Linked DNA regions of Homo sapiens: regions 1, 2, 3, 5 and 6 are each reported to be linked to region 4. Evidence: microRNA targets listed by miRTarBase, many of them from high-throughput screens and not tested one by one. Region 4 holds a microRNA gene; each other region holds the end of a gene's coding sequence.
The links. Region 4 holds the annotated microRNA hsa-miR-148b-3p (UCAGUGCAUCACAGAACUUUGU, at 2,150-2,171, shown strand). A microRNA usually pairs through its seed, bases 2 to 8, with sites in the 3' UTR of a target mRNA and lowers its output. Matches are read on the target gene's strand: a 7mer-m8 pairs with bases 2 to 8, a 7mer-A1 pairs with bases 2 to 7 and ends in A, and an 8mer does both.

Region 1 (4,109 bases), not on the chromosome of region 4:
CTATATGCATGGCACTGTGTCAGATGCCAAAACTACAAACATTAAGAATAATGCTCTGCTCTCTTGAAAGAGTGTCATAGAAGAAATAAGAAAAGAATGAAAATAAAAACAATATAGAGAATTTGTAATGCCCAAAGATAAATAGAACTAAGGCCCTGAAAGTTACATAGAATTTATAAAACAATATTTAATTCATTGCTTTAATGCATCCTATGGACTTATAACATTAAGCAGGTTATTTCATGTCCCTGGGCTTCTGTCTTGCCAAGCACAAACATTCTTATCAACTCTTCATAGTTTTTACAACTATCATTGGAATAAATTGTCAAAAGTATAGCTACTTTAAACTCTACTAAAAAATGGACTTTTGCCTGTATGCAAAATATTCAGTAATAGAATTATTCATAAATTACATGGATCTGTATCTGTTCAATTGGATTTTCAATGAAAAAGAAAGATCTAACAACTACCAACAAACATAACTGAAATGTCTTTGGGGTTTAATAGAACAGATCAAATTATTTCCACATAGTATTTTCCAAAGCTTATGTAAGGTAGAAAATATATAGTTGGAAGTAGAGAGGTAGAAAAAAGATAAAACATATTTTTTTAAAAAAGTGCATGCAACATTTGGGACAATGTAAAGGAATTATATGTGTAGTCTAAGTCACATAAGGAAAGGAAAGAAAACTCAAATGATATTTGAAGAACTATTGGCCAAGCATCTTCCAAAACTGATAGGAGACATCAAGCCACAGATTCTAATAGCTCTAAAAAGTTCAAGTAGGATGAACATAATAAAAACACACCCAAGCACATCACTGTTAAATCACCAAAGGAAAAACAAAACAAAACAAAACAAAAAACACTACTTTCCAGGATACAATAAGATCAACAGCTGACTTTTCAATAGAAATAATGAAAGCCAGAAAACTATGGAATGGCGTATTTCAAAATGCTGAAACAAAGTAACTGTCAACCTAGAATTCTATACCCAGAGAAAATATCATTTAAAGATGAAGGTAACCTAGACATGTTTAGAGAAAAATAAAAATAGAGAGGATTGTCTGCTGGCAGATCTACATTAAAAGATTGCTAAAATGAGTTATTTTGTCAAAAGGGAAATAATCCCAGATGGAAGCATAGTAATGCAAGAAGGAATGAAGAGTGCCAGAGAACTAAACTAGGAGGCTAAATCTAAGCCAACATCCATTATTTAAAACAATGATAATAATAGTATAGATTCTTTCCATTGAACAAGGTTTTGAAACTGTGCTCCAAAGAGTTGAAGAAACCAATGACTAACAGAAATTATTGAGTTTTCAGGATGGCAGATAAGAAAAGAAAGAACTTGATAAAATGCTGAAACTACCTCTGCTTATAAGATATTTTTTTAACTAGCTGAAATTGGTTTGAACCAATATGGCCAACCAGAGTCTGTGCAGAATGAGCTTGCTGATGTAGCAGCCGCAACTTCTACCATGTTTCATACTAACGTCTCCTCATTTTGTACATGCGTCCCATGAGGAAGCATGAGGAAATAACCCATGAGGAAGCATGAAGACCTTCCAGACCTTTCCTTTACTTCCACCAATCACCTACTAATCCCAGAACCTAGCCACTAAAGCTTTTCTAATAAAAATACTGTCTTAGACCCAGCACAGGGAGACAGATTTGAGCTGAATTTCTATCTTCTTGTTGGTCAATTCACAATAAAAGCCTTTCTTTTCTCAAAAACGCAATGTGACACTGTTGGCTTCTAGCACATTAGGCAGCAAGCCCTTTTGCTCAGTAACAGTTTTCTTCCACACTTCAATAAAGAGCCAATTCTAGATATTGTTGGTCTATGTTGGATATAGTGAAGACACACTAAAGTTCACCAAATCATTCCTTTTGTTTGGACAAAATAATTTTTTTAACTTACTTTCCTCCAAATGTTTGATCCCATCAAGTCAGAGACATGAGAATGACAGTCATGTTCCTTTCCCTGTTACTATACCAGGAATCCTGGCACATCTCAATTAACAGGCTCCAAACACAACCCTGCTATGAGGTTGTTTTCATGTGAACAGAAGTTGAGCCCTTGGCAGAGAAGCTTGGAAGTGGAGTCCAAAGGGGACACAGCCAGATACTTAGAGACTTGGCGACTGAGCAAAAACTCAGCGATAGTTGTCTGTGCTGGGAAAAAAAAAAAATCCTTACTGGCATTGAAGAGTAGCTAAATATCATTTCCACCAAACAGTGGTCATTGGCTTCCGTGGTGAGAATGGTTTCAACTGAAAGCAGGCAAAATGGTACATTGTTTGAGTACCACTCTTAAAGGCCACATCTCAGGGGAGTGATTTTAGTATGTAAAAGAATCTCCCAAGAAACTGTTAGAAATGGAGGGTTATACTTTCCACTCAATGTTGCTGAGAACCTATAAATACTCAAAAAATAGATCTTACCAAAAAAAAAAAACAATACAGAGCATTCATTTTTGAGTCCAGTTGCACAAGCAAGAAGGTAGTAGCCTTGTAGTTTGAGGAATCTCAAAACAGATACACAACTTCATGCCTCCAGCCAAGGCTTTAGTGCCTCCTATCTTCCGATGTCTACCTGAGCCAAAAGCATGTACCCGGTTGAGGCCAAGAGTATAGCTGAAGGGTGAGGGCTGACAGGTTAAACAGTGCAGGTGGATGAGGCTCCTGAGGATTATCTACCATCAGTCCAAGAGCAACACCTCAGCCCAACTCAGTACCTTTGCAGCATCTAAGTTGCCTTAATTCCAAGTATTAGTGAGACAAAATATTGTGGTTATTTAAAATCTCACTAGTGGTTTTAATGCATTTATAGCTTTGTCCAGAGTAAATTATTTTCTCAAATGGAACTATTCGGTGGCAAAAATTAATTCCATTTAGTGTTTTTGTATATCTCAACTCCTTAGGACACAGGCCCTCCAGCCCCCAGGATTCTAGCTTAGCAAGTCAATAGAGAAGCTCAACGATCTGCATTTTTACTAAACTTCTGAAGTGACTCTGGCACAGAGTTAAGCGGGCGACACTTTGAGAACACCACCTCCAGGAAAGGGAAGTGGAAGAGACGGCTCTCACCTCTGACGTGCAGGACACCCAAATTCAAGTTTTAGAAAGACCCAAATTTGTTTACATAAAAAGCAAACTGAGCCCTTTGGGCACACATTTCAAAGAAGAATAAGAATCATACTGAAAATATTTATGATTTAATCAGTGTAAAAAATGTAGACATGGGGGAAAAAACATTCGTAATCAACATGTGCTGTTTTCTACTTCCGGTACCAGAAAGGAAAAGCATAAACTTCAGGATTTCATTGTCTCTTGGTAAAACAAAAAAATCCCACCTAGAAGTGACTCAGCAGTTCAAAGGACTCTAAGCTTCCAAAGGCTCCCAGGTAGCAGAGCTGACTTGTACCAGTAGACCAGGAAATAATGTGTTCATTGTTGGTACTGACCCACTTAATTTAGTGTGGAACCTAGAGTCTTGCCTGATTTGAGTTCATTTTTCTGCTCATCAGGGGAACTACCCACTAGGCATATAACGGCTTGAAAAGAAAACATGCCATTTTAACTTGACATTCATTTGCACCCATCATACATGCCTCAGAAACTTTGCGCCACTTCCTCATAGTCCCTCTCCAGGGCTGCCAGATCTTCCCTGGCCTCCAAGAACTCTGCTTCTTCCATGCCTTCTCTGAGGTACCAGTGCAGAAATGCTCTCTTGGCGTACATGAGGTCAAACTTGTGGTCCAGGCGGGCCCAGGCCTCCACAATCGCCGTGGTGTTGCTCAGCATGCAGATGGACCGGTGGACTTTGGCCAGGTCCCCACCCGGCATCACCGTGGGCGGCCGATTGTTGATGCCCACCTTGAAACCAGTTGGACACCAATCTACAAACTGAACAGAGTGCCTCGACTTCGTGGCTGCGATTGCTGCATTCACTTCCTTGGGGACCACATCCCCTCTATAGAGTAGGCAGCAGGCCATGTACTTCCCAAGCCGAGGATCACACTTGACCAGCTGGTTGGAGGACTCAAAGCAGGCAGTGGTGATGTCTGACACAGAGAACTGCTCATGGTAGGCTTTGTCAGCAGA
Region 2 (4,000 bases), not on the chromosome of region 4:
CGGGTCAAGGGCCCACTCCCAGTGTTGAAGCTCCAGCCGGAGGCGCTGGAGCCCATCTACTCTCTGGAGCTGCGCTTCCGTGTGGAAGGACAGCTGTATGCACCCCTGGAGGCTGTCCATGTGCCCTGCCTGTGTCCTGGCCGCCCTGCCCGCCCTCTGCTCCTGCCTCTGCAGCCCCGATGCCCGGCCCCCGCACGGCTGGATGTCCATGCCCTTTACACCACATCCACTGGTCTCACGTGCCATGCCCACTTGCCACCCCTGTTCGTGAACTTTGCCGACCTCTTTCTGCCTTTCCCGCAGCCTCCAGAGGGGGCCGGGCTGGGCTTCTTTGAGGAGCTCTGGGATTCCTGCCTGCCAGAGGGTGCTGAGAGTCGTGTGTGGTGTCCACTTGGGCCACAGGGCCTGGAGGGCTTGGTGTCCCGCCACCTGGAGCCTTTTGTGGTGGTGGCCCAGCCTCCTACCAGCTACTGTGTAGCAATCCACCTGCCCCCGGACTCAAAGCTGCTGCTGCGGCTGGAGGCGGCCCTGGCAGATGGAGTGCCTGTGGCCCTGCGGACCGATGACTGGGCCGTGCTGCCCCTGGCGGGGGACTACCTCCGTGGGCTGGCGGCTGCTGTCTGAGCCCCGGGAGACCAGGTGGGGGCAGGACTGTGGCCCTTGTGGGGGCCAAGGCACACTCCTGTAGCTCTGTCGCCAAAACCCTGCATTCCGCAGTGCCCTCGCTGGCTTGTTTTCTTTTGGGCCCCGGTTGGGAGCAGGCTCCTGGGGGTGAGGGTCTGTCTGAGTCTGTTTTTGCTGCTCTAGCAAGATCCCTGAGACGGGGTAAGTTATAATAAACAGAAATGTATTGGCTCAGAGCTCTGGAGGCTGGGAAGTCCATAGTGGAGGGCCCAGAGCCCAGTGAGGACCCTTCTGCATCTTCCCATGACAGAGGACAGAGTGACAGGAGTGAGGGGAGAGAGCGAACCCACTCCCAAGATAACGGCCTGAGTCCACGCAGGAGGGCAGAGCCCTCGTGGCCTGACCACCTCTTAGGGTCTAATCTTATACTGTTACAGTGGCAATCGCATTTCAACGTGAGCGTGGGAGGGGACAAACATTCAAACCATAGCAGGGTCATAGGCCCCAAGAAGGCTTCCAGACAGAACCCGGCACTGTAGAGCTACAGAGTTCCTTCTCACCCAGACACACTAGTGCTCTCCAGAATCTCTGCCCAGGAGGCAGGGGAAAAATCTCCTTTCTGCTTCCCAGAGAGGGTCTGGCCTTGCCCAAGGCCACTCAGTGATTTAGGAAGAAGGCTGAAGCTAGAGTGTGGACCTGACCTGTTGGACAGTACTTTTCTTTCTTTTTTTTTCGGGGAGGGGTTAAAGACAGGATCTCACTCTGGCGCTCTGGAGTGCAGTGGTGTGATTAGGGATCATTGCAGACTCTGCCTCTCAGGCTCAGGTGATCCTCCCATCTCAGCCTGCCTCCGAGTAGCTGGGACTACAGGTGTGAGTCACCACTGTATTTTTTGCAGACAGGATCTCCCTGTTTCCTAGGCTGGTCTCGAACTCCTGGGCTTAAATGACTCTTCTGCCTCAGCCTCACCAAAGTGTTGGGATTACTGGTGTGAGCCCCCACACCTGGCCGAGCCAGCGCTTCTCAACTCCCAAGGTTTGCAAGCTCCCTGCCCCAGGGAGCTCACGCCAGGCAGGCCAGTGGGCCTAAGCCAGAAACAGAAAGACAGCAGTGGCCAGGTGGAGAGCTTCCCAAGCTGTGCCGATTAGAGCCAGCTCTAGGAAGGGCCTGCTAATAAGGTCTAGGGTCTGAGACCAAGTTTTTTCTAATCTCAGCCCCTAAGAAACCTAATTTGTGCTTAGGAATCTTCCCAGGTAAGAAGAACTAGTTCCTCTAGTTGTTGTTTTTTTTTCCCAAACATGCAAACACTGAGGATTGAGCTGTGTGGGGTCAGCTGTGCTGCCAGGCACATGTACGTTGCCTCATTTCATCCTTGCAACAGCTCTGCAGGGCCCCGCAGATGAGGAAATCCGTAGGCAGGAGCGGTTGAGTGATTTTCCTAAGGTCACCCAGCTGTTTGGTAATAGTGTTTTGTCATCTGGTAGCAGGTTTCCATTACCATGCCATCAGAGCAGACCTCAGCCAGGGCCACAGAGGTCCCAACCGTCTCTGCCCTCTTCTGCTGCCCCTGCCTCATGGGCTCCCAGCCACAGGTTCCCCATGGGCCAGCTTTACGCCTCCTGATCCTTCCGATTGGGGCAGACTAGGAGAGGAAAGACGGGCCTGGGCTGGGTGCGGTGGCTCATGCCTGTAATCCCAGCACTTTGAGAGGCTGCGGCGGGTGGATCACCTGAGGCCAGGTGTTTGAGATCAGCCTGGCCAGCATGGCGAAACCCTGTGTCTAATAAAAATACAAAAATTAGCCGGGCGTGGTGGCGGGCGCCTGTAATCCCAGCTACTTGGGAGGCTGAGGCAGGAGAATTACTTGAACCTGGGAGGCAGAAGTTGCAGTGAGCCGAGATCACGCCACTGCACTCCAGCCTGGGCGACAGAGCAAGGCTCTGTCTCAAAAAAAGAAAAAAAAGAAAGGGCCTGGGACAGTGGTACTGTTAATAGGTGGAGTCAGGAGGCCTGTCTCAAACTTGAGATGTGGCAATAACTTGCTTTGTCACCTCGGCAAGTCATTTCCAAATCAGGAAGGGGTCAGTTTCAGGAAACAGAAACTTCTCCAGCTGTTTTTGGCAGAAGGGGATTTAAGGGAATCAGGGTACTTAAAGTACATGGGAAGGCTGGAGAAGTCGCCTCCAGGAAGCTCCCACTGGAGCTGGGATCAGAACGTACTGTCCTGCCTGCCATCCCCTGTAAGCACCCAGGAAGCTGGGCTTGGGCCCTGGGACATGGGGTGGGACTGCCACTCCTGCCTCCTGACACCCACAAAGCCAGAAGCGTGGTGCTGCTGCAGAAGGACTGAACATCTCCAAGGCTGGGCCCGCAGAGCAAACTTCCTTGGCCCTGTGTCCTCCATCCATATCCTTCAAAGGACACCTCATTAGTGGACTCCATTTCTCTCTTCCACGGAACTCCAGTGGCAAGGGAATCCAGAAACGTTTTCTTTTTGCCTGGAGATGCTAATCCTTAGCCTAAGAATAAGGAAACTGGTCCATGTAAGGACTGACCATCCTTTCACCCATCTGTCTGCCCACTTGTGCATCCATCCCATTTTATCCATCCATTCCTCCAGTTGTGGACACCAGATGACTTTCAGCTCCCCCTACCCCAACCAGAACTTTGCTGCAATGGCCATTCTTATATGCCCCTATGGACCCATGGGACAATTCTCTGGGATACATGCTAGGAGCAGAATTGCTGAATCATAGGGAATGCATGTGCTTAGCTTGGCTAAGCAATGTTGGAGTAAAAGCTTTTGGTTTTGCATCTTCTCAGCACTTCTAGGGAGGCACCAAAAGGGAGGATGGCACTGACTGAGCCCACCTGAGATAGCTCCTAGACCCCAGCCCTCTGTGTCCTCAGAATCACACACTGCTGCTCATCACTTCAGCTTCCCGAAGATCATGGCAATAGCAGCATGCCTGTAACTGTCCCAAGTACAACCAAAAATTCTTCCTAAAGAGAGGGAACCAAAGTCACACGGGTCACCTTGTCCACCTGTGTGGACGTTGCTCATGTTCACATACCCTTCCTTGCCTCCTTCAAGGCAGGTCTGGCCACAAGCCCAGCTCTGGCTAATGAAATGTGAAGGGAGTCAAGGGCCGGGGGCGGTGGCTCACACCTGTAATCCCAGCATTTTGGGAGGCCGAGGTGGGTTGATTACCTGAGGTGAAGAATTTGAGACCAGCCTGGCCAACATGGTGAAACCCGTCTCTACTAAAAATCCAAAAATTAGCCGGGTGTGGTGGCGTGCTCATAATCCCAGCTACTCAGGAGGCTGAGGCAGGAGAATCGCTTGAACCCGGGAGGTGGAGGTTGCAGTGAACTG
Region 3 (4,109 bases), not on the chromosome of region 4:
TTTTTGTATTTTTAGTAGAGACGGGGTTTCATTACTTTGGGCTAGGCTCCTGAACTCCTGACCTCAGGCAATCCGCCTTCCTTGGCCTCCCAATGTGTTGGATTACAGGTGTTAGCCACGGTGCCCAGCTGAGATGATTACTTTTCTTGATACCCCCAGAGAAACTTACTGCTTAGACCTGAAGATCAAGAACTGCCCCCATTGGAGACAAACTGTGGGATAATTTATGTTAATTCTAAATAAATGTCTCTTAGTATCTCCTTTGGTTACTTTTCCAGGTGAGACAGGGGAAAAGGTGGAAACAGACATGGAGAATGAGAAAGTGAGTGAAGGGGCTGAAACCAAAGAAGAAGAAACAGGAGAAGTGGTGGACCTTTCAGCAGCCACATAGATAGAAGAGTGAACCGACACAGTGTGTTATCATAGAGGAGACAAAAATGGTAGTGAAGCTTGTGGTTATGTATCTTATCTTTCTACATTTACATGTTTTCTGTAAGGAGTGTGGTTATAGAGAGACTGTTGGAACCATGAGAAGGATGTTTCTGTGTTCTTGATTATATTGTTCTGCAAAACTGCTAAGCCATGAACAGTTTTCTTAGCTACTTAGAATGGTTATACATTTAAAAGTATAAAAACCAAAGCCAATAAAAATGATGTGATTATTTAAGAGTGTGAGGGTGACTTTCTTCATTGTGGCCATGGGGCCATTCAGTATAGAAAATGAGACCCTAAAAAGAAAGTGTAAACCTTTAGGTACAAGTGGCTAGAGAAAGGAGTTAGCAAATTTTAGGGAACTCACAATAATAAAGTCACACAATTATAATCATGATGGAATGAGAATGAACAACAGCAAAAATAATAGGATGAACTATACCAAATATTTCTGTCTTGTTATAGAATTCAGAGCTGATAAGAACCTTAGGAAGTATGTCATCTACACATTTGCTCTCCTTTAAGCTTGTCAACTACCACAGATCCTTATTTATCATGGAATATTAAATATGTTAACAGAATCCTTTGCAAAGGATTGCAACTCTGGTGCTATCACAAGGTTAGACATTTTTCATGATGAAAGGCTACACATTTTCCATGTGCCATTTCGAATCAGCTGTTGATTTTATACTCACATGAGGTTTTTCAATTGGTGTTATCCTTTTGAATAACATTAAAAGTATTTTTAATTAATTCACTTTTAAATGTATTTTGGAGACAATAAACAGCAAGGATTAAAACCTAGATTGTTGCTTATGTAGAGTCTATTCCTGGGCTCTACTCTTTTTTTCTTTTTTTTTTGGACATGGAGTCTTGCTCCGTCACCTAGGCTGGCGTGCAGTGGTGCGATCTCGGCTCACTGCAACCTCTGCCTCCTGGGATCAAACAATTCTCCTGCCTTAGCCTCCCGAGTAGCTAGGATTACAGGTGCTTGCTACCATGCCCAGATAATTTTTGTATTTTTGGTACAGATGGGAATTCACTATGCTGGCCAGGCAGGTCTTGAACTCCTGACCTTGTGATCCGCCTCCCAAAGTGCTGGGATTACATGTGTGAGCCATTGCACCTGGCCACTCTATTCTTTTTTAGATGACTGCAATTTAATGGTAGGCTTTAGTGATGGAAAAAGGCTAAGAAATCAAGATTTTAGAAGCATTTATGAGATTTCTTTAGTGATGCACCACAGAGTCAGTTTTTGAGAATTCTTCTGAAGTTGGCAAGGGATTTTGGCAAATGATTGTATGTGAATAATAAAAATAATAGCTAACTTGCCTACCAGTGAGTGTCTTGTGTGTTTGAGTATCAGAATAGAATTCTGGAAACATTTTGTTTATTTATCTTGTTTGTAAATAGGTATTTTTCTTTTTTAAAAAAATTCCTACTATTTCCTAAGTAAATATGTATTTTTAAGGTAACTGCTCAGATGAATTAACTAGTCTCTTTATTTTTATTTTTTATTTTTTGAGACAGGGTCTTGCTCTGTTGCCCAGGCTGCAGTGTAGTGGTGTGATCATGGCTGACTGCAAACTTGACTTCCTGGGCTCAAGCAATCCTCCCACCTCACCTCTCCTGAGTAGCTGGGACTACAGGCATGTGCCACCATGCCGGGCTAATTTTTGTATTTTTAGTAGAGACAGGGTTTCACCATGTTGCCCAGGCTGGTCTCGAACTCTTGAGCTCAAGCAATTCACCTGTCTCAGTCTCCCAAAGTGCTGGGACTACAGGCGTGAGCCACCCGGCCTAACTAGTCTCTTACTTTAGCTTCTACATTAAAATAACTACTAAGATGGCCTATAATTAATTATAAGAATATAGGATACAGGGAAAAACATATTCTCTTGATTCTGATTTTAATATTAATTTATGTTCTGACTGTAAAGTGCCGAGGAAGACAATAAAAGGAGTTCCCTGAGGAGATGACATCATCCTTTCTGCAAAGTAAAGGCACTGGATTGTGATTGCATTGAAGGCAAGCACTGTGTTTTATGTATTTTTGAATTCAGGCATTTAGCTCCTTTAATGGAATGTGGTACATACTTGATAAATATTTGTTGAATCAGTAAATGAATAACAAATACCAAGGAGTCCCATTTATACTTAATTCATTAAAAAATAATACATATAAAATATAAATTTGGCTGGGCATGGTGGCTCACGCCTGTAATCCCAGCACTTTGGGAGGCCAAGGCGGTGGATCTCTTGAGTCCAGGAGTTCAAGACCAGCCTGGGCAACACGGTGAGACCCCATCTCTACAAAAAATATAAAAAATTAGCTGGGCATGATGCCATGTGCCTGTAGTCCCAGCTACTCAGGAGGCTGAGACTCAAATCTTTTATTTTCATAAAATTTTGGAAATTTATAAAAATTTCTGGTACTTTCTCTACTTTTGTCTTTATTCTTTAATGTGGTAACTAAAACACTTTTGGAAACTTTTTTTTATTCTTTTAGATAATATTCAGTTTTAACATTAAAAACCTATAAGGAAAATTTAAATATTTCACAATATCTGAACATTCCAAAATTTAAATATTCCATCAAAATAACCTGTTAATTTTAAAAAGTAATAAATATCTATGGTAAAAGTGAAATATAGAAGGGTATAAAATAGGTAGTGAAGTTTCCTTCCCATATCCTTTAGTCCTTCCATGAAAAAATAATATTTCTTGTGTATACTTCCAGAAAAAAAGGTATATGTATATACCAGGCTATATGTATATGCTAAAATATAAGTGTATATTTACATATCTACATTTTGACTTTTTTATAGATGGGGTCTTGCTATGTTGTCTATGCTGGTCTCAAATTCTTGGCCTCAGATGATTCTTCTGCCTGGGTCTCCCAAAGTGCTAGAATTACAGGCATGAGCCACCACGCTCAGTCTACATATCCACATTTTAAAACACAAATGACAATTTACATAGCCCCTGTACTGTGAAGACTGCATGTAAAACCACTGCTTGATCCTTTCCTATGTTAGAAATTTTTCCTTTTGCCCAAGACTGAGTCTTAACAGAGCAAAATGTATTCTGATCATAGGTCCCCAGACCCTGAAAGAAGATTACCGGTTTTGCCCTCAGATTCAAAATGCACAAGATGGACAAAAGGCTTGAGTTGTTCATAGAGAAACTGCCAGCAGGGCTGGATTTTTCTATCCCTGGGGTGCTGTGCAACCACTTTGTAGTCCAGTTGTGTTCTTTTAATTAAGATAACTTCATTATTTCTGTACCTGATGTACCTAACTGGGATGGAAATGAACAAATTTCCCAACTCTCATTCTTGGGAGTGAACATTTGCATTTACCAGCAGTGGGTGCCAGTTTGCAAATCTAGGAAATACCCAGACCAGACTCAAATTCTTGGCCAGAAGTGCCAACCCCCTGAGGCACCCACAGGGTAGAAATGTGTAGTCAATGGCTGGGTGTGGTGGCCCATACCTGTAATCCCAGCCCTTTGGGAGGCCAAGTCAGGAAAATCACTTGAGCCCAGGAGTTCGGGACCAGCCTGGGCAATATAGGGAGACCCTGTCTCTACATTAAATAAATAAATAAATTATTTTATTTATTTATTTTTTTAAAAGAAGAAATGTGCGGTCAACCTATTATATTACCTTACTGCTT
Region 4 (4,109 bases):
GTGCCACTGCACCCCAGCCTGGACAACAAAGTGAAACAAAGTGAAACTCTGTCAAAAAAAAAAAAAAAAAAGTGTTGGCACAGAGTCAGGAAGTATACCTACTTAGCCATTTGGAGCTGGGAGTGGTATCTAGGAATTTCTCCTTCTAGTTTTTACCTTCTTAGTTTTACTTTATAAACAGGATTGAGACAAGAGAATCTTGTTACAGTTTTTAATTCACCAAGACCCATTGCCACATCAGGGTAATGCCACATCAGGCCCTTTTGGTATGGCCTTAGGGAATGTTTTTTTTTTTTTTGATCTGAAGTCTTGCTCTGTCGCCCAGGCTGGAGTGCAGTGGTGCGATCTCAGCTCACCGCAACCTCTGCCTCCCAGGTATAAGCGATTCTCCTGCCTCAGCCTCCTGAGTAGCTGGGATTACAGGCGTCTGCTACCATGCCTGGCTAAGTTTTGTAATTTTGGTAGAGACAGGGTTTCACCATGTTGGCCAGGCTGGAAGGATTTATTTTTAAGTAGACAATGAAGAACTTTTTAGTGATCTCAGTCAGCTTCTTTTTTTTTTTGAGGCGGTCTCACTCTTTTGTGTAGGCTGGAGTGCAGTAGCGCAATTGTAGCTCACTACAGCCTTGAACTCCCAAGCTCAAGCGATCCTCCTGCCTCAGCTTCCTGAGTAGCTGAGACTACAGGTGCATGCCACCATGCCTGGCTAATTTTTGTTTTTTTTAAGTTCTTGCAGAGACAGGGTCTCACTGTGTTGCCCAGGTTGGTCTTGAACTCCTGGCTCTAGTGATCTCCTGCCTCAGCTTCCAAAAGTGCTAGGATTACAGGCATGAGCCACTGCGCCTGGCCTCCATATTCTTATTTGTGCTCTTTCAGCTCTGTAGATGGCATCCTGTAATTCCCTCCATAGAGGCTTCTTGGTTTTTTCCCCTAAATGAATCAAATAATTCATTATAGTTTCCAAGTATCCTCTCTACCTTCCCCAAACATATTCTCCCAGTCTTCTGGTGGCTTACTAAGATCTTACCCCAAAGAGTTCTCTTACTATATACATTGTGAACAGACTTAATTCACTTATTTTTCAGGGCCCATCTCTACTAGTTTGTCCTACAAGACACACAAATAGAGAGCTTTTGCCGGGTGCGGTGGCTCACGCCTGTAATCCCAGCACTTTGGGAGGCCGAGGCGGGCGGATCACGAGGTCAGGAGATTGAGACCATCCTGGCTACAGTGAAACCCCATCCCTACTAAAAATACAAAAAATTAGCCGGGCATGGTGGCAGGTGCGTGTAGTCCCAGCTACTCGGGAGGCTGAAGCAGGAGAGCTTGAACCAGGAGGCGGAGCTTGCAGTGAGCTGAGATCGTGCCACTGCACTCCAGCCTGGGCGACAGAGCGAGACTCCGTCTCAAAAAAAAAAAAGCTCTTATCCAGAGCTGCCTTTGAAAAATATTTTTGCTTATGACTGTAATCCTGTGGAAGCTGCAGGTCACCGAGAAGGCCCACAGGGGGCAGCACTAGGAATGACTCTTTCCCTCTAGTCCTCTATGCGCTAGGGGAGAGAGTTCTTGGAGATGTTGATGCTTTTCACCAGGCTTTAGAAGCCCCTGATTGAGGCCGGGCACGGTGGCTCACGCCTGTAATCCCAGCACTTTGGGAGGCCGAGGCAGGCAGATCATGAGGTCAGGAGTTCGAGACCAGCCTGGCCAATTTGGTGAAACCCCGTCTCTACTAAAAATACAAAAATTAGCTGGGCATGGGGGTGTGTGCCTGTAGTCCCAGCTACCCGGGAGGCTGAGGCACAAGAATCACTTGAATCCGGGAGGTGGAGGTTGTAGTGAGCGGAGTTTGCTCCACTGCACTCCAGCCTGGGTGACAGAGAGAGACTGTCGCAAAAAAAAAAAAAAAAAAAAAAAAAGAAGCCCCTGAGATCAAAGATTCATTTGCAGCAGCCTAGTTGCTTGTTCTGTGGTGTTTCACCTGTCTTGAGGACAGCATTCTTGTTTTCTTGATAATAAAAACATAAATACATGAAAATCTGTCTAAGTCACCCAATCTCCCACAAAACAATCTGCCTATACATCATTTCCAAGCACGATTAGCATTTGAGGTGAAGTTCTGTTATACACTCAGGCTGTGGCTCTCTGAAAGTCAGTGCATCACAGAACTTTGTCTCGAAAGCTTTCTAGCAGCTACCCATTTTGGGAGTGGGAGGGAAGAATAGACCTTTTAAATTCTTTCAGTGTGGCCCTAAGCTGATAAGGTCTTTCTCAACAGTCAGCATTTAATGTGTTACAAGGTCAAGCCTAGTCCATTGTCCTGGAAGCCCATTTCTCAGTAGCTGGGAGTTATTTATAAACTTGCCCTTTGCAAAAACTTAAAATGAAATTACATTATCAGTAATGACTTCTGGGGCCTTTAAACTGGCTAGTTTTATGGCATAGCCCTCCCCACTCCTGAGAGGTAAAAGCCCCAGGCTGAAGTGGAACCAGCTGCAGTCAGGAGGTGGCAGGAGAAGTAAAGAAGCTGCTGGCTCCAGCTGTAGCAGAATGGAGAATTGAAGCGGCATTTAAGCGCCTGCCTAAATTCTCAGCTTTATTTAGTATGCTTCCTCCTTTGGAAGTTTGAAATGACCAGCCTTTTCTGTAATGCCTTCTTTCCCTTTTGAGAGCTCCAGTAAGCTCTATGTCAAATCTAGTCTTTATCCTTGTCCTCCTTAGCCTGTCTTTTATTCTTCCCAGGAAGATCCAATGTTTCTATTTTTGGGGTTTCTTTGATAATGTCTTCTAGGAAGCCAGTGAAAAGAACCAAGAGCAGAACCCAGGGATATGTTCTCTCTTTGCCGGTGTGGCTGTTGTAGGCACTCACACCCTGTTGGCCACAAAGGACATTGTCTGACTCTCCCAGTTGGCTGGGGGCCATTAGGGCTTTGCTTTTCTTTGGGTTCTAGGGATGCCAAACTCTATGGCTGCAAGAACCAGTTTCCTATGCCAGGTTAATGCCCAGCTTAAACTAATGGGCAGCTCTCTAAAGTTGCTGTGAATGTGGATAGAGGAACAGAGCCAAAGATTTCCAGGAAAAGGTTGTGGGAAAAAATGATTTCGTCTAAATTTTGTTCCTTTTGGACTTCTTTTCTTCCATTAAGAAAACTCATTCCCATTGTTGTCTCCCTTTTGGAATTGAGGACCCAAGTTGTTATAGAACTGAGCCTGCTTTACAGGAAGATCTTTCTGTGAGGAATTAGGAGTTAGGAGAGCTGCTTCTACTTGTGACCTTTTAAGACTAGACTCTAGAGGACTTCCCTCCACTAGGCAACAAAGTTCTTTAGTTTGAGAGAGGAGTTACTCATGCCTTGTTTATTCCAGAGTGTTATATATACAGGATGGACATCTCTAAGGAGTGTTTATCAGAGGAGGGATAAAGTTGGTAGTAATATCACCCAAAGTGGCCACATCAGAAAATCCACTTATATGTGGAGGTCTAATTATAAGTAGTCCCTTAGATGCATACTGCGTCAAGGTATTTTAACTTTATTCTCAAACTTCCTTTATTCTCTGAATTATTCACCAAATATTGAGAGTTTAGTATGTGTCAGGCATTGTTCTGGACAAATGGGACAAACCAGCGAACAAAACAAAAATTGCAGTCCTCAAGAATTCAAGTAGGGAAAGCTTATGTTCCTCATCACCTTGTTGTCAAAAGACTGGGTTCCTTTTACTTCCATTCTGAACTGCCCTCCTCTGCCCCCGCAAACAGGGTTGATTCTTTGCATGGAACCATAAACCTCCTGAAGCCTCATGAGGCAATTTATGTTTGTAGAGGCTGCAGTTTCTGGGTTCTTGGCAATGATTTTTTCCTCCTCACTCTTGGATATCTGTCAAACACATACTTTTGTGTTTGGCTCCTGTGAGGACTGTGGGTTTCTTAAATAAGGCCAGGAAAGAGGTAGCAAAGCAACAGCCTTGTCTCAGCACAAGGGATATCAATGGTAAGTAATGTTGATTAGAAAGTCAAGGAATGTAGGTCGGGCGCAGTGGCTCACACTTGCACTTTGGGAGGCCTAGGTGGGAGGATTGTTTGAGCCTAGGAGTTCAAGACCAGCCTGAACAAT
Region 5 (4,103 bases), not on the chromosome of region 4:
AGTGTTACGATGGGTGAGTGTGAATATGAGCACACAGGAGTGGCACAAATCTTTATGTTAGACCAGATAAAGTCTAACCTTGTTTTACCTTTTGATATCAACTCAACTCTATGCATGATCTCAAATTATGTAATTATGTTTTACAGGCAACAAACAGGCATTTCCCACAAACTGTTACAGGGGCATATTTGAGTGGCGTTCGAGAAGCAAGCAAGATTGCAGCATTTTAAGAATTCGGTGGACCCAGCTTTCTTCTGTACCCCAGATGGGGAAATTTGAATCACATGTTAAACCTCAGTTTTATAAGAGGGGGAAAAAACCGTCTCTACATAGTAAAACTGAAATGTTTCTAAGGCGATATGATAATGCAAACCTATTTCATCACTCTAAAAGCACTGACCTCAAAAAACCTTATAAGCACTTAGATTTAATTGCATTTTCCATAGGTTCAACTACTGCTGAAAGTCTGGATTTCAGAATAAAGCAGAATGTAAGTTTCAGTTGAGGCCATGGATTTGATTGTTCCATGGCTGGAAGTTCCCTTTAGATTTCACATTTTATATGGCTGATCAATTTTCATACATTGAGAAACCAAGTCAATCAAGCAGGAATCATTTAAAAACCAGATAAAGCCATGTTTTTCTTCTGTGACAATTTATCAGTATCTTTACCAATGAGCCTTAATTTTTATATAGGTCCAATATTGAGCTTTTACTTAAAATTTAGATAGAACTTTTTTTTGGATACAGCACAAACTCCAGTTGACAGTAAAATGAAGCTTCTAGGTATTTTGTATTGTACATATTTCCTCCTACTGGGTGTTCAAAAGAAATTTAAATTCAAGTACCTTTTGTGATAAAATGTTTTAGATTTGTGCACCCATTGGCAAAACAGGAAAGTTTCCAGATAGGTATTGTATCATTGAGAATGCAGCACAGATAGTGTGGGCTTCACACTATAGACACAGAATATAGCTTTTTCTTAAAGCCAAATTTGGGTGATAGGACACTTTAAATATCCTTAATTTTGGCAACCACTAGCAAAAAAACTTGTCAGAATAATTTAACCAAGCCCCTCTCCACTTCTTTTATTTAAAAGCACTGATTCAATTGCTAGGAATATTTTTGCAGATTTTTCTTTACAGTATTCCATAGGCAGGTCCACTGGAAAACTGCAGAAAAATGTGAGCTCTCCTGGTAAATAGTATACATTTTATAAGCTATATTTTAAAGGCCTAAGAACATGGCAAGTATTTACTTTTATCTTTTTTTTAAAAACACTCATGACAGAAAACAGTTTAATAATATCTCATTCTAAAATAAAACACTGGTTGCAGGGTCTTCAGGATGCCTATTTTGCCAAGAAACTTCAGTATACAGGTTAGAAATATGCTTTTGTTTTTGAACAATAATATACTGGTTTGCTTTAAAGAAGGGACTAAATATGACTTTAAAGAGACTTCAAAATATTGAGTATTTTAAAAATTTAAAAGTAGGTCAGTTTATAACGAGTAAATACCTAACACACCAAGAATGTGCAGTGAACCTCAGGCATTTAAGACACCTCCCCCACCGCCCGCCCCCCGCCCCCCCCAATCAAAGTGTGGTCCCAAAACAAGCCAACAGCTGTATATCTCAAAAGTTAACCCAAGACAACTCTGATATTTAGGTTATTTGTTGAGACTCATTGGTACTGACTGGCAAGTATTCTGCTTTAAAGTATCATGTATTAAAATGTTTAGACAGCATGTGTTTTAAAGTGATAAATGCAAAATGTTAAGTTTGAAATGGTTAACAGTAAATTATTATGTTAGTTTCCAGGCACTTGAACTGTGCTACAAGTAGGGGAAAACCTACTTTAAAGTATGGTAAATGTGTGTTTTAAACTTCCTATCAAGTGACATACTTCATTTGATTTTTTGTTTAAGAAGCCATGGTACTTTTTTCTTGAGTTACTTTGGATATGTTTTTTCAATGCCATCTGAAGATTTTGTAATTGAGTAGCAGTAAATATACAGATTTACAATGTTTTAACTACAGTTCATGAATAGCTGGTTGTGTAAAACTAATAAAAAACTAGACTTTCACATGTACTCTGTACTGTAGTGGTGATACATCCATTTAATAAGTGTGCGTACTCATCAAGAACTTTCATACAGAACAACTCCATTTCCTCACTTCCAAATACTCTATGCATGACTACTTACCTTCTTTATAGCAAATGGTCATAAAATTAACCTTAATTATTCAGTTTTGTGAAGTCACTCCAAGAAAATGGTCCATTACCACAAAAGAGTATTCCAAATTGTATAGGTTATAGGGCTGAATCAATTTAAAAATCCCTTTTCAGAATTATTCCCCATAAGGAAATGCTATATACACCTATAAGATATCAAATGCAAGTGACTTAAAACACCAGTGATTTAGATTTATTTTTATTGACAAGGTTTATAAGAACAAATATTTAAAATCGAAGGCCAATTATTAGGTCTCATTTAGTTGCTTATTTTGTTCACTTGTATTTACCTTTCCCTAGTGTCTGAGTAACTATCAAGAAACAAACCTGTGAAAATACCTGTTAACATTCAACATATATTTTTATATATTTCTGTTCTATGATGCAAAGATATTTTTCAACACTTAATTGGTGCAACAAATGTGTCATTGTGTCATAAACAGCATGTTTTAAAATTCAGATTTAATAAACTGATTTAAGACAGTAAATTTGAAAGACAAAATTAAGTCTCATTCAGGAGTGGTCCATTATGTTGATCATCTAGAATCAACACTGATTAACCAAACTCTGAAAGCCAAGAGCCCCAACTCCAGAGAAACATTAAATTTCTTTAATGTAAAAGTATATTATTTTTGAGACACACTTTGTCAGAGACATCCACGATTGCCTGCACATTATATTCTGGCATTATAATCTGGTACTTTAGTCATAATCGTGAAGCTGGCTAGGTTTCCAGTAAATATCAGCATTTTATATGGGCAAAAGCAGTTAATAAAAATCAGTTCATTTACTGTAAGCCAAATGTGCTTGTACTTAATCCCACCCTTTCCCAAAGTTTTTGAAGCTTTGATAGGTTGATTTTTGGTCTGTCCTTATATAATATAAAACGTACCTACAGACACTTTTACAGAGTTAATACTAAAATTACAAATTGATGACACTTTCGAGGCAAAGCAGGGTAACTGTTCCTTCAGTGTTGCCATCACTGAATTGACTTTCACTGTTCCATCATACTGTTTGGCTGAACACTGACATTCCATAGTCTACAACTATAAAGATACCTACCTATGTGAGTTTAAAAAGTGATCTGCACAAAAGAAATAAAAAAACTTTATATACAACCAATTGTTTTTTAAAAATACAAAAATAACATCTGTCACTTTTGTCATGCTGACAATTTGACATATATACACATGCAGGAGAAAAGTTCCAATTCAGTGATCTGGACAACTGTAGCTTGTATATTTTTAATATGATGGACACACTGCCGCTGAATTTTCACACTGACAGAGATGTGTATTCAAAATATTTCATATACTAAATACTACAATCTCTGTATGTATAAATCCTGGTGATAATAGTTTTTGTTCTACTTGATTAAAAGTATGCCTTAAGCAAGCTAATATTAAGTGCACTAAAAACCACAACAGCTCAAGAATCTATGACCTTATATAAAGAAATCCAAAATGTACAAAATACAACTATAAAAGCAAGGAACAATTAATGCCATGCAAGATTTTAAACTAAAAATGGCATAGAAATGCAATTTAAAACAGCAAACTCAAATTCACATAACACTCAAGATAAAAAGGTCAGCAGTAAGTTCTACTAACGTTGCTTAACAAGGATTTAGAAAAGGAAATACATTCTCTTTGCTGGTATAATGGTATAAATCAGATCTTCAAATCTATGGGAACGAGTCATCTTCTCTGTCCTCTATCTCAAGAAATTAGCTGTAATGAAAGAGAAACATTATTTTGCCATAAATCATAAACCTTTATCCCATTTTTTCCACATCTATTTTACTATTTTGTCCTTCAAAAATCAGTTGAGATCAATACAGAATTACAGCTACCTGCTGATCTTCC
Region 6 (4,109 bases), not on the chromosome of region 4:
AGAATAAGTTAATTATTGTGCTCTATTACAGCTTAGAAAGAAAATAAGTACTAGTGACTTGAATTGTATACAAATGTTTTTTCTTTCCCCTTAATGTTTCAAAAATTTTAAACATAGAACTATAATGGTTATGTAATTATTCTCTTTAAAAATGTTCTATTCATGAAGATTTTTCTCAGTGATAATTTTTATCATAATTAAAAACAAAAGCACATGATTAATTTTTTTTTTCACTTAGGTGTTACTTGTAAAGTTATCACCATGTTCTTCAATGGATTTGCAATCTTTTTGTATAAACCACCTCCATCAGCCACAGATGTGTCATTTCATAAAGAGAATGCAGTTGTGACTAATGTTTTAGCAGAACAGGATCTCAACAAAATAGTAAAAGAAGGGTGAAATGGGAAAAGAGAAGACTGTTTTACACCTGGAAAATTTACCTCGATTTTTAAGAACACACATTGCCATGGCAGGATTATCTATCCAATATGGACAATCATATTTACAAAATTGATGTTTTTATAATCAAATGTATTTTTTTACTTATGTAGTTTTTGTTTTATGCAAGAAACAGACCTGTGCCTTCAAAGCCCACGTAAAGCCTCAAAACACAGCACACACACACACGAGCACACACACACACACACACACGAACACACACACACACACACACACGCACACATACACACTTATTTCCTATTCCCATTGTCTAGGTATGAAATCCTCAAGCAATAACAAGAAAAAAGGCCCACAATTAGAAAAATTTACATTTAAAAAAAATGTTGTTTCTATCCCCATTACAACTTGTTTAATTTTAATTTTCATTGTCAATATTTTGAGCTTAGAACATTTATGGTATAAAAATTTAAACTAATCAAAGTTGTGTGATGATTTCCGGGAATTATTATTGAAAGCCTATGAATTTAAAACCAGGTTTACCATGTAATTTGTTTTTAAATTTATGTATACTAGCCTGGCCTTTCTCCAAGCAAATTATTGAACTATTAGAATATGTTAGTTATCATCCTTGTGTCTTAGTATATAGTGAATACAGAAACATCAGCATTGTATACACATATTTTCACTTTAACTCAAGAATTCCAGGAGGTAATTTGTTGATATTACAATTTTTAACACATTTATGATTCTGTGATAATATTATTCAATTGCATATATTTCAGAGGAAAGTACCAGTCAGTAAAGAAAAATGCCAACTAAACATGAAACTATTGATCAATACTTATATACCTTTAATTTTTCCTATTTGAAAAGCCAACCACTTAACACATTACTCATAGCACCTAAGACAGTGCCTTGCATAGTGTAGTCATCTATTATTATTGTTTAATTAGAATATTAAACCCTACCCTTTAACTCAGCAGTCCCCAACCTTTTTTGCATCAGGGACCATTTTTGTGGAAGACAATTTTTCCATGGGGGAAGAAGGTATGGTTTTGAGATGAAACTGCTCCACCTCAGACCATCAGGCATTAGTTAGATTCTCATAAGGAGAGTGCAACCTAGATCCCTTGCATGTGCAGTTCCCAATGGAGTGTGCACTCCTATGAGAATCTAATGCCACTACTGATCTAACAAGAGGTGGAGCTCAGGCAGTAATGCTCACTCACCTGCCTCTCAGCTCACCAACTGTGTGGCCCGATTCCTAACAGGCCACACACAGCCCAGGGCTGGGGACCCCTGCTTTAACTGATGCATTGATTTGATAAAGTATTTTACAAGCCTGATAATGTTATAACCCTGTTTATTCAGGTCAGATTTATGCCAACTTTGCTGAGAATATGGAGGGTATAGATGAGTGAACATCAACAAACATAACTTCTACCATGGTTAAGAATTTTACTTAGGAAAAGTATTGAAGTTCAAATCCAGATAGTATTACATTTGAAATTGTTATAAGGGTTATTAATTTAATAAAATTCATCATCAGGTTTCCCCTATAAGCTTTCTCCTAGGTTAATTTTCCACAAGCATTGTTTTATATACACTGTAATCAGGATAACACAAGCTTAGTGTTAGATCTTGTAGGAAACCAAGATTAGAAACATTAGAAATTTGCAGAATTTAAGAAATTATGTTTTGTGGTAATCTATGGCCAACGATGTTAGAACCTAGCGCAATTGTAAAGTGAAATTCAAGGAGAAGGAATGAGGAGTTAGGGAAGCAGCATACTTGAATATTAGAGAAGGAGAGGAGCTGTGGGTCAGGAATCAGAGAGACCTGCTAAAACCAGACAGATATAAACACCAAAGACGGAAGCCAAATAGGTAGCCAAAAATCCAGATATTTGAGAAGCAGGAAATTTATAGCAACCAAAGAAATAGGGCAAGAGAGGCAGGTGAACACACATGATACCTCAATTGACAATCTTCCTCCCACCAAGCCAGACACGTTGTAAATGCTGCTTCCTATTGGAGCCCAGAAAAAAGGAAAAGGAAAGTTTAGGCTTTCTTTGTCCTTTGTGTGGAAGCAGGGAATTGGATTGAAGACTTTCATAGTTGTAACATAAAGGCAAATCCTGAGGAACTCACTGATGGAGATGTGAAATGGCAGTAAGGAAGAAAACAGAATAACTGAACAAATATATTAGTCTAGGGCCACTTAATTTAGAGGAAGAAAAAAAATCAACCCATCCATAGAAATAGTTTGATAAACAGGTCACTAAATCATTGGCGTTTATAAAGATTCTTAGCTATCAAGGGCTGCATTGTATTTTATATACTCAGTTTTATAAGGTGATACTTTTTAAATAAGCGCTTTAATGAAAATGGTTAGACTGAAAATAATTTTGGTCCTTAAAAGGAGTCAGGAGCTTTTATATATAAGGTACATATTTTAAAAGAATACCTCCTTTATAACAGGGTTTTACAGACACTACCATAATTTATAATCATTATTTTTTACTTTTGGGTTCACCTAGATCATATGAGTTGATGTGATACTTCTAGAACAAAATTATTCATAGTGCGTTTTTTGTAATTTATGATTGTTAAGTAAGCTTGACTTATAAATTGACATTGTAATTGTGTACATAATTGGATATATGTGTTAAAATTTAACATTTAGATTTACTTAATTGTAGAAAATACAAATGTAAAACTTACACATGGAAAGAACTGTATGCAGTTGACTTTACTATGTAAATTGGAGGGAAACAAAGTTTTAGATCCATTTTCTTTCAAAATTTTCTTTATTGTAAAGTATGCAAAATATATATTCATACCATTTATTAAATCAGAATGTTTATACAAAATTGTCGTGTTTGAGCTTATTAAATGACACAGGTTTGAAACTTGCCTTATCTCTGTGAACATAAGCATATTTTATGGATGGGAAAGGGAAATTAGTATGCTTTTGAACTTGGTGAATGTATTAATAATTTAATCCAGTGATTTCTTGTATCTCAACAGATGTTTTTAATTCAATACAAACCACATGTATTATGAAATATATATTAGGGAAATTCTCTTACACAAGTTTCTACATATGACAGATTAATATATAAGATTTATATAAGTAGGATACATTTTACAGATGGTTTATTTGTAAACTATCTGATAAAAAAGTGTGGGATGTGTTTAATTTATCTCAGTTTATTGTAATAGTAAAATATTTTAAGGAAATAATATTAGATGTTAATTTGAAATGTAATGTTCTTTTCCCCCAGGCTCCTTCAGCTTTTTTTTCAGTAAAGTCCAATAAACACTAACTTTTACAGCACATATGAGTAATCAAAAATAGATGAAAGATAATCCACTTTGAAAAACTCAATGGGTAAGTTGGATTATAACATTTTAGTGCTTCAGCTAAAATTAATTTAGCTTATAAAAATTATCAAGAATTGATCATTTTTTTCTTTTCAAATTTAGTGCGTCTGACTTTCCATTTAAAATTTTATTTTGTAGTGCTTTTAGACTTTGTAAAATAGTACACATAAAATTCCTCTATAAGCTTTCTCTAGTGTTAATATTTTAAAAATCCATAGAACAATTACCTAAAACTAGAAACAATTACGAAGAAACTAGCATTGGCATGATACTATTAACTAATCTACAGATTTTATTATAATTTTGCCAATCATAACACTAGTG

Region 1: the mRNA of TUBAL3 is a reported target of hsa-miR-148b-3p. The part of its 3' UTR that is shown has no 7-base or 8-base seed match.
Region 2: miRTarBase lists AP5B1 as a target of hsa-miR-148b-3p. Seed matches in the 3' UTR shown: 7mer-A1 at 3,479-3,485.
Region 3: miRTarBase lists ERICH5 as a target of hsa-miR-148b-3p. The part of its 3' UTR that is shown has no 7-base or 8-base seed match.
Region 5: miRTarBase lists KDM1B as a target of hsa-miR-148b-3p. Seed matches in the 3' UTR shown: 7mer-A1 at 393-399 and 7mer-A1 at 1,098-1,104.
Region 6: miRTarBase lists SLCO4C1 as a target of hsa-miR-148b-3p. The part of its 3' UTR that is shown has no 7-base or 8-base seed match.

The regions. Positions count from the first base shown.
Region 1 is chr10:5,389,900-5,394,008 of GRCh38, forward strand. TUBAL3 (tubulin alpha like 3) reads right to left here. Exons shown (of 4, transcript NM_024803.3): 4 at 3,202-4,109. The coding sequence ends at 3,618. Among named protein-coding and RNA genes, the nearest start is that of TUBAL3, 13 kb to the right of the region's middle.
Region 2 is chr11:65,774,480-65,778,479 of GRCh38, reverse strand. AP5B1 (adaptor related protein complex 5 subunit beta 1) reads left to right here. Exons shown (of 2, transcript NM_138368.5): 2 at 1-4,000. The coding sequence ends at 624. Among named protein-coding and RNA genes, the nearest start is that of AP5B1, 4.5 kb to the left of the region's middle. RefSeq lists an enhancer at 231-1,135.
Region 3 is chr8:98,092,943-98,097,051 of GRCh38, forward strand. ERICH5 (glutamate rich 5) reads left to right here. Exons shown (of 3, transcript NM_173549.3): 3 at 279-667. The coding sequence ends at 391. Among named protein-coding and RNA genes, the nearest start is that of RIDA, 22 kb to the right of the region's middle.
Region 4 is chr12:54,335,129-54,339,237 of GRCh38, forward strand. It overlaps MIR148B (microRNA 148b), which reads left to right and starts at 2,088; the gene lies at 2,088-2,186. The region is part of intron 1 of COPZ1 (coat protein complex I subunit zeta 1); the gene reads left to right.
Region 5 is chr6:18,221,763-18,225,865 of GRCh38, forward strand. It overlaps KDM1B (lysine demethylase 1B), which reads left to right. Exons shown (of 22, transcript NM_001364614.2): 22 at 147-2,092. The coding sequence ends at 230. DEK (DEK proto-oncogene) reads right to left here. Exons shown (of 11, transcript NM_003472.4): 11 at 2,098-3,968. The coding sequence ends at 3,957. Among named protein-coding and RNA genes, the nearest start is that of DEK, 41 kb to the right of the region's middle.
Region 6 is chr5:102,233,148-102,237,256 of GRCh38, reverse strand. It overlaps SLCO4C1 (solute carrier organic anion transporter family member 4C1), which reads left to right. Exons shown (of 13, transcript NM_180991.5): 13 at 239-3,271. The coding sequence ends at 399. Among named protein-coding and RNA genes, the nearest start is that of SLCO4C1, 61 kb to the left of the region's middle.